Linked DNA regions of Homo sapiens. The protein of the gene in region 1 purifies or fractionates together with the protein of each later gene. This does not show direct contact. Each region holds a gene or a part of one and is shown in the gene's direction. Other genes may lie near its edges.

What was found. Proteins that work in one complex are often made in the same cells at the same time.
Region 2: the proteins of ECE2 (region 1) and KCNIP4 purify together in Homo sapiens (affinity purification with mass spectrometry; 2 studies listed by BioGRID and IntAct, with this or other methods). This does not show direct contact.

What each region holds. Positions count from the first base shown.
Region 1 is NC_000003.12:184,274,471-184,278,221, forward strand, and holds the start of ECE2 (endothelin-converting enzyme 2), read left to right. Parts: upstream 1-1,551; 5' UTR 1,552-1,683; coding exon 1,684-1,722; intron 1,723-2,010; coding exon 2,011-2,097; coding exon of another isoform or gene 2,098-2,235; intron 2,236-2,421; coding exon 2,422-2,557; intron 2,558-2,780; coding exon 2,781-2,996; intron 2,997-3,454; coding exon 3,455-3,579; intron 3,580-3,696; coding exon 3,697-3,751. Other genes in the region: EEF1AKMT4-ECE2 readthrough transcript protein, read left to right, coding at 2,422-2,557, 2,781-2,996, 3,455-3,579, 3,697-3,751. UniProt on the Homo sapiens protein: Converts big endothelin-1 to endothelin-1. Also involved in the processing of various neuroendocrine peptides, including neurotensin, angiotensin I, substance P, proenkephalin-derived peptides, and prodynorphin-derived peptides.
Region 2 is NC_000004.12:20,850,261-20,853,911, reverse strand, and holds part of KCNIP4 (Kv channel-interacting protein 4), read left to right. Parts: intron 1-3,244; coding exon 3,245-3,369; intron 3,370-3,651.

The sequences.
Region 1 (3,751 bases):
TCATTGCAACCTCCACCCCCCTGGGTTCAAGCGATTCTCATCTCAGCCTCCCAAGTAGCTGGGATTATAGGCGCCCGCCACCATGCCTGGTTAATTTTTGTATTTTTGGTAGAGACGGGGTTTCACCATGTTGGCCAGGCTGGTCTCGAACTCCTGACCTCGTGATCCACCCGCCTCGGCCTCCCAAAGTGCTGGAATTACAGGCGTGAGCCACTGCACCCGGCTGACACCCTTCTTGAGAGAAAGATGAAAGAAAGAAAGAAAGAAAGAAAGAAAGAAAGAAAGAAAGAAAGAAAGAAAGAAAGAAAGAAAGAAAGAGAGAAAGGAAAGAAAAGAAAGAAAGAAAGGAAAGAAGAGAGAGAGAGAAAGAAAGAGAGAGAGAGAAAGAAAGAAAGAGAGAAAGAAAGAAATGGATTATGTGTTTGCTACCCACTCAAGCCTTCTCAGGTCAAATTCTTGTACTTTCTCAGTGGGGGTGGAGGATGGGGAGAGGAAGATGAAGCGCACTCTCTTTTCCTTTTTTTTTTTTTTTTGAATTGTAAAACACTAGGCACTTTTCAGTGCAACAGACTGCAATAACACCAGGCCTGATTAAGGAATGACAATATGGAAGGCAGATGGCAGATGCATGGGTGCCACACTATTGCTTTTCAGTTAAATATTGCTTGGTGTTAGTTTTTTTTCTCCTTGTAAATCTCCCAAATAAAACGGTTTGCTTTCCCCAAGTTAGAAGTGTTAGCACGTCTTTTCTTTAAATATCTGTGCATGGCTGTTTTTTTCCCTGCCAATTTGTCACCATCTGTAACCCTCCCTTTATGAGACGATCTGATGACAGCAGTTATCTTGGAGAGTAGAAGTGTGGTCTTGAAGCGCCATGGAAGAGTAGAGTCAGTGTAGGCTGTGTGTGTGTGGAGTGTATGCTCCCCCTGCACTTGGTGTGTGTACATACAGAAACACAGTGTGCGTGTGTGTTGGCTCTGGGTGTGTTGTGCGTGTGTACACTGTGTGTGAGTATGCAGTGTGTGTACATTCTGTGGGCATCTCGTGTGTGTGTGGACTGTGTGCTGGGCGTCGTGCCTGCCCGTGTCCTTGGCGCCTTGGCGTCTATGCGTTCTCTGCACATAGGTAGGTACCACGTGCACACCCTGAATGTGAGTGAACTGCCTGTGTGCTATGTATTTGCCGGCTGAAGAGGGGCTGTGTGGACTACTGGGGGAAGACGTTCCTCAGGAGGGCATAATTTCTCTAAAGTGCTTAAAGGGGATGGAGAGAGCCTGAAATTTGGGGGAAGTAGGCCAAGGAGTATTAGCAACGTCTGGGCCTGGTTGAATTTCATTACTTTTCCTAGGAAAGTAAATTATGGGTGGCTTGAAGGAGGGTGCTGCTGAGATGGGGGGCGGACCATGAAGCGTGGAGGGGTCTCCGGTGTTGCTGGAGGGCAGCTGGAGCCTGCGGAGAGCCTCGGCGCGCTCCTCCCTCTCCCCCACCCTCCCCCCACCCCGGGCGGGGCTCCGCGTGGGGCGGTGGACTCGGGCGGGGGGGGGGGCGGCCGCGGCCGAGCGGGGGTGCTGCGCGGCGGCCGTGATGGCTGGTGACGGCGGGGCCGGGCAGGGGACCGGGGCCGCGGCCCGGGAGCGGGCCAGCTGCCGGGAGCCCTGAATCACCGCCTGGCCCGACTCCACCATGAACGTCGCGCTGCAGGAGCTGGGAGCTGGCAGCAACGTGAGTGGGGGCCCCGGGCTCCACGGGAGGGGACTGGGTGGAGGGGGACGAGGCAGAGGGGTCGGCCGCGGAGGGGCAGGCGGTGCCCGGCTCGCGGAGGTAAGGCTGCCTCCCGGGCCTGGTGGAGGGGTGATAGAGAGACCCCGGGCCCGAGAGCAGGGCAGGTGGGAAGGGAAGGGCCCTCTTAGCAGGGCGGAGGGGTCCGCGAGGCAGGGAGCACTGGGGCAGGGTCGTGGGCAAATAGCCCTCTCTGCCTGACCTCGGTTGGCAACCCCGACTGTCTGGCAGATGGTGGAGTACAAACGGGCCACGCTTCGGGATGAAGACGCACCCGAGACCCCCGTAGAGGGCGGGGCCTCCCCGGACGCCATGGAGGTGGGCAAGGGGGCTTCCCCTTTCTCACCAGGCCCCAGCCCTGGCATGACGCCTGGCACACCCAGGAGCTCTGGGCTGTTCTGGAGGGTCACCTGCCCCCACCTCCGCTCCATCTCTGGCCTCTGCTCTAGGACTATGGTGAGGCGATGCTAAGCCGTGACGTTGCACAAAACAGACTCAAGGCTCAACTCACTGGCTGGCCTCATTGCCCCCGGGCCCAGAGTTAACCCTGTGGCTCTGAAAACTGCCTGTGGCTTCACCCTCTGGTAATCTTGGATCCCTGCCCTGCATCTCAGTCACTCTCTGTCCCCCTGTGTTCCCCAGGTGGGATTCCAGAAGGGGACAAGACAGCTGTTAGGCTCACGCACGCAGCTGGAGCTGGTCTTAGCAGGTGCCTCTCTACTGCTGGCTGCACTGCTTCTGGGCTGCCTTGTGGCCCTAGGGGTCCAGTACCACAGAGGTAGGTGGGCCCACACTCTTCGTCAGTATTCATAACTAGGGGTTCTGGAGGCCTAAGGGCCTCTAAGATTTTCACTTGTGGGAACCAAGCCTTCCCTGCAGAAAAGCCCCCGGCTTTGCTTTCTCTTCCCAACCTTCCTGCTGTCATGGCCCTTGCAGAGTTTGCCTCTTCCAGACAGACAGACTGACAGTCTCCTACCCTCCGGCCATGTTCCCTACCACAGACCCATCCCACAGCACCTGCCTTACAGAGGCCTGCATTCGAGTGGCTGGAAAAATCCTGGAGTCCCTGGACCGAGGGGTGAGCCCCTGTGAGGACTTTTACCAGTTCTCCTGTGGGGGCTGGATTCGGAGGAACCCCCTGCCCGATGGGCGTTCTCGCTGGAACACCTTCAACAGCCTCTGGGACCAAAACCAGGCCATACTGAAGCACCTGCTTGGTGAGTGGGGCTGTTAGGGAGGCCTTGGGCCACCTATGTGCCTTGTGCCCAGCACAGGGCCTGGCACTTAGCAAATAGGCAGTGTCCATGAATGAGGAAGTGGATGGTTCTGTGAACACTCCAGAGGGTGGGGAGGCAGAGAGCAGGGGACTATTGAGAAGTGCAGATGGGTTTGATGGGGGCAGAACTCTGGGTACAATGGAGGGCCGCTTCTCTGCACTCTGTTTGGAGCACTGTCGTGGTGTGGTAGACACCAGGGAGCCTGTACTGCTTAGATATCCTTGGGTCTCCATGGACAGGGAGAGGAAGCCACGGCTTGCTGTTTCAGACACTCTTCCTGGGTCTGCGTTAGCAGGACTGCTCATTGACAAGGCAAGGAGAGAAACCGAGCAAGGGCCAGGGACTCCCCCTCAGCAGTTAACGTAATTGCCACCTGGATCCTGTGTTCTGCCCCACAGAAAACACCACCTTCAACTCCAGCAGTGAAGCTGAGCAGAAGACACAGCGCTTCTACCTATCTTGCCTACAGGTGGAGCGCATTGAGGAGCTGGGAGCCCAGCCACTGAGAGACCTCATTGAGAAGGTAGGGCCACTGAGCCGGTTGAGGGCAGGGGAGCAGGAGAGGCCTTGAGAGAGGAGATGGCCCAGGAACGCTTTGGGAGCTCCTGCACTAATCATTCCACTTATGGTCTCTACATAGATTGGTGGTTGGAACATTACGGGGCCCTGGGACCAGGACAACTTTATGGAGGTGT
Region 2 (3,651 bases), on another chromosome or scaffold:
TCATTAGTGATGTTGAGCATTTTTTCATGTGTGTTAGCCATTTGTATATCTTCTTTTGAGAATTGTCCATTCATGTCTTTAGCTTACTTTTTGATGGGATTGTTGGTTTTTTTCTTACTCATTTGAGTTCGTTGTACTTTCTGGATATTAATCCTTTGTCAGATGTATAGATTATGAAGATTTTCTCCCACTCTGTGGGTTGTCTGTTTACTCTGCTGACTGTTCCTTTTGCCATGCAAAAGCTCTTTAGTTTAATGAGGTCCCAGCTATTTATCTTTGTTTTTATTGCTTTTGCTTTTGCTTTTGGGTTCTTGGTCATGAGATCCTTGCCTAAGCCAGTGTCTAAAAGGGTTTTTCCAATGTTATCTTCTAGAATTTTTACAGTATCTGGTCTTAGATTTAAGTCCTTAATCCATCTTGAGTTGATTTTTGTATAAGGTGAGAGAAGAGGACCCAGTTTCATTCTCCTACATGAGGCTAGCCAATTATCCCAGCACCATTTGTTGAAAAGGGTGTCCTTTCCCCCACTCTGTGTTTTTGTTTGCTTTGTCAAAGATCAGTTGGCTGTAAGTATTTGGGTTTATTTCCAAATTATCTATTCTGTTCCACTGGTCTATGTGCCAATTTTCATACCAGTACCACGCTGTTTTGGTGACTATGGCTTTATAGTATAATTTGAAATCAGGTAGTATGATGCCTCCAGATTTGTTCTTTTTGCTTAGTCTTGCTTTTTCTATGAGGCCATGCGGGCTCTTTTTTGGTTCCACATGAATTTTAGAATTGTTTTCTCTAATTCTGTGAAGAATAATCATGGTATTCTGTGGGGATTATGTTGAATTTGTAGATTGCTTTTGGCAGTATGGTCATTTTCACAATATTGATTCTACCCATCCATGATTCTACCCAGCATGGGATGTGTTTCCATTTGTTTGTGTCACTTATGGTTTCTTTCAACAGTGTTTTGTAGTTTTCCTTGTAGAGGTCTTTTGACTCCTTTGTTAGGTATATTCCTAAGTATTTTATATTTTTGCAGCTATTGTAAAGGGGTTGAGTTCTTGATTTGATTCTCTGTTTGGTCACTGTTAGTGTATAGAAGAGCTACTGATTTTTGTACATTAATTTTCTGTCCAGAAACTTCACTGAATTCTTTTATCAGTTCTAGGAGCTTTCTGGAGAAGTCCTTAGGGTTTTCAAGGTAAACAATCATGTCATCAACAAACAATGACAGTTTGACTTCCTCTTTACCAATTTGGATGCCCTTGTTTTCTTTCTCTTGTCTGATTGCTCTGGCTAGGATTTCTAATACTATGTTGAAGAGGAGTGGTGAGAGTGGGCATCCTTATCTTGTTTCCATTCTCAGAGGGAATGCTTTCAACTTTTCCCCACTCAATATTATGTTGGCTGTGGGTGTGTCATAGATGGCTTTTATTACATTAAGGTATGTGCCTTGTATGCCAATTTTGCTGAGAGTTTTAATCATAAAGGAATGTTGGATTTTGTTGAATGGTTTTCAGCATCTACTGAGATGATCGTGTGATTTTTGTTTTTAATTCTGTTTATGTGGTATATCACATTTATTGACTTGCGTATGTTAAACCATCCCTGCATTCCTGGTTTGAAACCCACTTGATCATGGTGGATTATCTTTTTGATATGTTGTTGGATTCAGCTAGTGAGTATTTTGTTAAGGATTTTAACATCTATGTTCATCAAGGATATCAGTCTGTAGTGTTCTCTTTTGGTTATGTCATTTGCTGGTTTTGTTATTAGGGTGATGCTTCATAGAATGAATTAGGGAGGTTTCCTTCTTTCTCTATCTCCTTATATCTTTCTTCAGATGTCCTTCCATTCTGAGAGTCTAAGGTTCTATTTTTTTTGTTTGTTTGATTGTTTGTTTGAGACAGGGTCTCATGCTGTCACCCAAACTGGACTGCAGTGGTGCCATCACTGCTCACTGCAGCCTCAGCCTCCTGGGCTCAAGCAGTCCTCCCACCTCCGCCTCCCAAGTAGCTGTGCAAAATATCTGATTTCATTGGAATCCTTAGTGAACATTATCAGAGGCTATCTTGTAGTTGCATTTTACATAGGGCACAAAACTGATTATTATTAAATGACAATTCCATTGTTTATAACTAGTGGTTGTTATATAGAAACAAATTCCAGGTTGGACTATTTGTGATCTTCTATGTTTTTCTAACTATACCTTAAAAATGCTAGAGATGCTGGTGAGGTTGTAGAGAAAAAGGGAAACTTTTACACTGTTGGTGGGAGTGTGAATTAGTTCAACCATTGTGGAAGGTAGTGTGGTGATTCCTCAAAGACCTAGAGGCAGAAATACCATTTGACCCAGCAATCTCATTACCGGGTATATACCCAAAGGAATATAATTCATTCTATTATAAAGATACATGCCTGCATATGTTCATTGCAGCACTATTCACAATAGGAAAGTCACAGAATCAACCTAACCGCCCACCAATGATAGACTGGATAAAGAAAATGTGGTACATATACACCATGGAATACTATGCAGCCATAAAAAGGACAGAGATCATTTTATTTGCAGGCACATAGATGGAGTTGGAAGCCATTCTCTACAGCAAACTAATGCAGGAACAGAAAACCAAACACTGCATGTTCTCACTTGTAAGTGGGAGCTGATTGATGAGAACACATGGACACTGCCAGGGAACAACACATGCTGGGCACCTGTTGGGGGAGGGAGAGGATCAGGAAGAACAGCTAATGGATGCTGGGCTTCATACCTGGGCGATGGGATGATCTGTGCAGCAAACCACCATGGCACATGTTTACCCATGTAACAAACCTGCACATCCTGCACATGTACCTCTGAACTTAAACGTTGGGGAAAAAAGAAATATATGTTACTGTTAGATTTATAGAGTAATATATATTGCTACTTAAACTTTTTGTTTGACGTAATCATATAATCCACTGATTATCTGAAATAAATTCCTGTGCTCTTTTTTGTTGTCTTAAAACAATGCTAGGGTTGTAATATCTACATTAATGACAAGAATATGCAAAAAAATCATATACAAGTGTTTTAGCTTAATACGCTTAAACTGGGAAATGTAAAGGCCTTATAGGCATTGTGAGGGTCCTTCCTCTGTGGACAGTCACAGACATTAGCAGACATGTTCTTCCGTTTTCCTTTGTTGCTCTGTGTAAGCATCGGTGAGCAGTGGCTGGTCCTAAGACTCTTTCTTGTTTTCCTCCACAGACAGCGTGGAAGATGAACTGGAGATGGCCACCGTCAGGCATCGGCCTGAAGCCCTTGAGCTTCTGGAAGCCCAGAGCAAATTTACCAAGAAAGAGCTTCAGATCCTTTACAGAGGATTTAAGAATGTAAGAACTTTCTTTTTGACTTTACCTTCACACAATTCCCAGAGGAGCATTGAGAAATGAGAGGAAAAGGGGGAAAATATCCCATTCTATGAGAGCCCCATCATATGTATATTTCATACTGATCCTTCCCAGATAGGAATATAATCAGTATCTGTGGACTTTGATTCTCTGTGGCACACCCATGCTGGCATACTGTGATTGCCCATTAAACAAAGAGTTTCTGAGAAAGTTTTATTCAATTCAGTTCTTGGTTGAAATATTTTCTCTTCATCAACTATAATG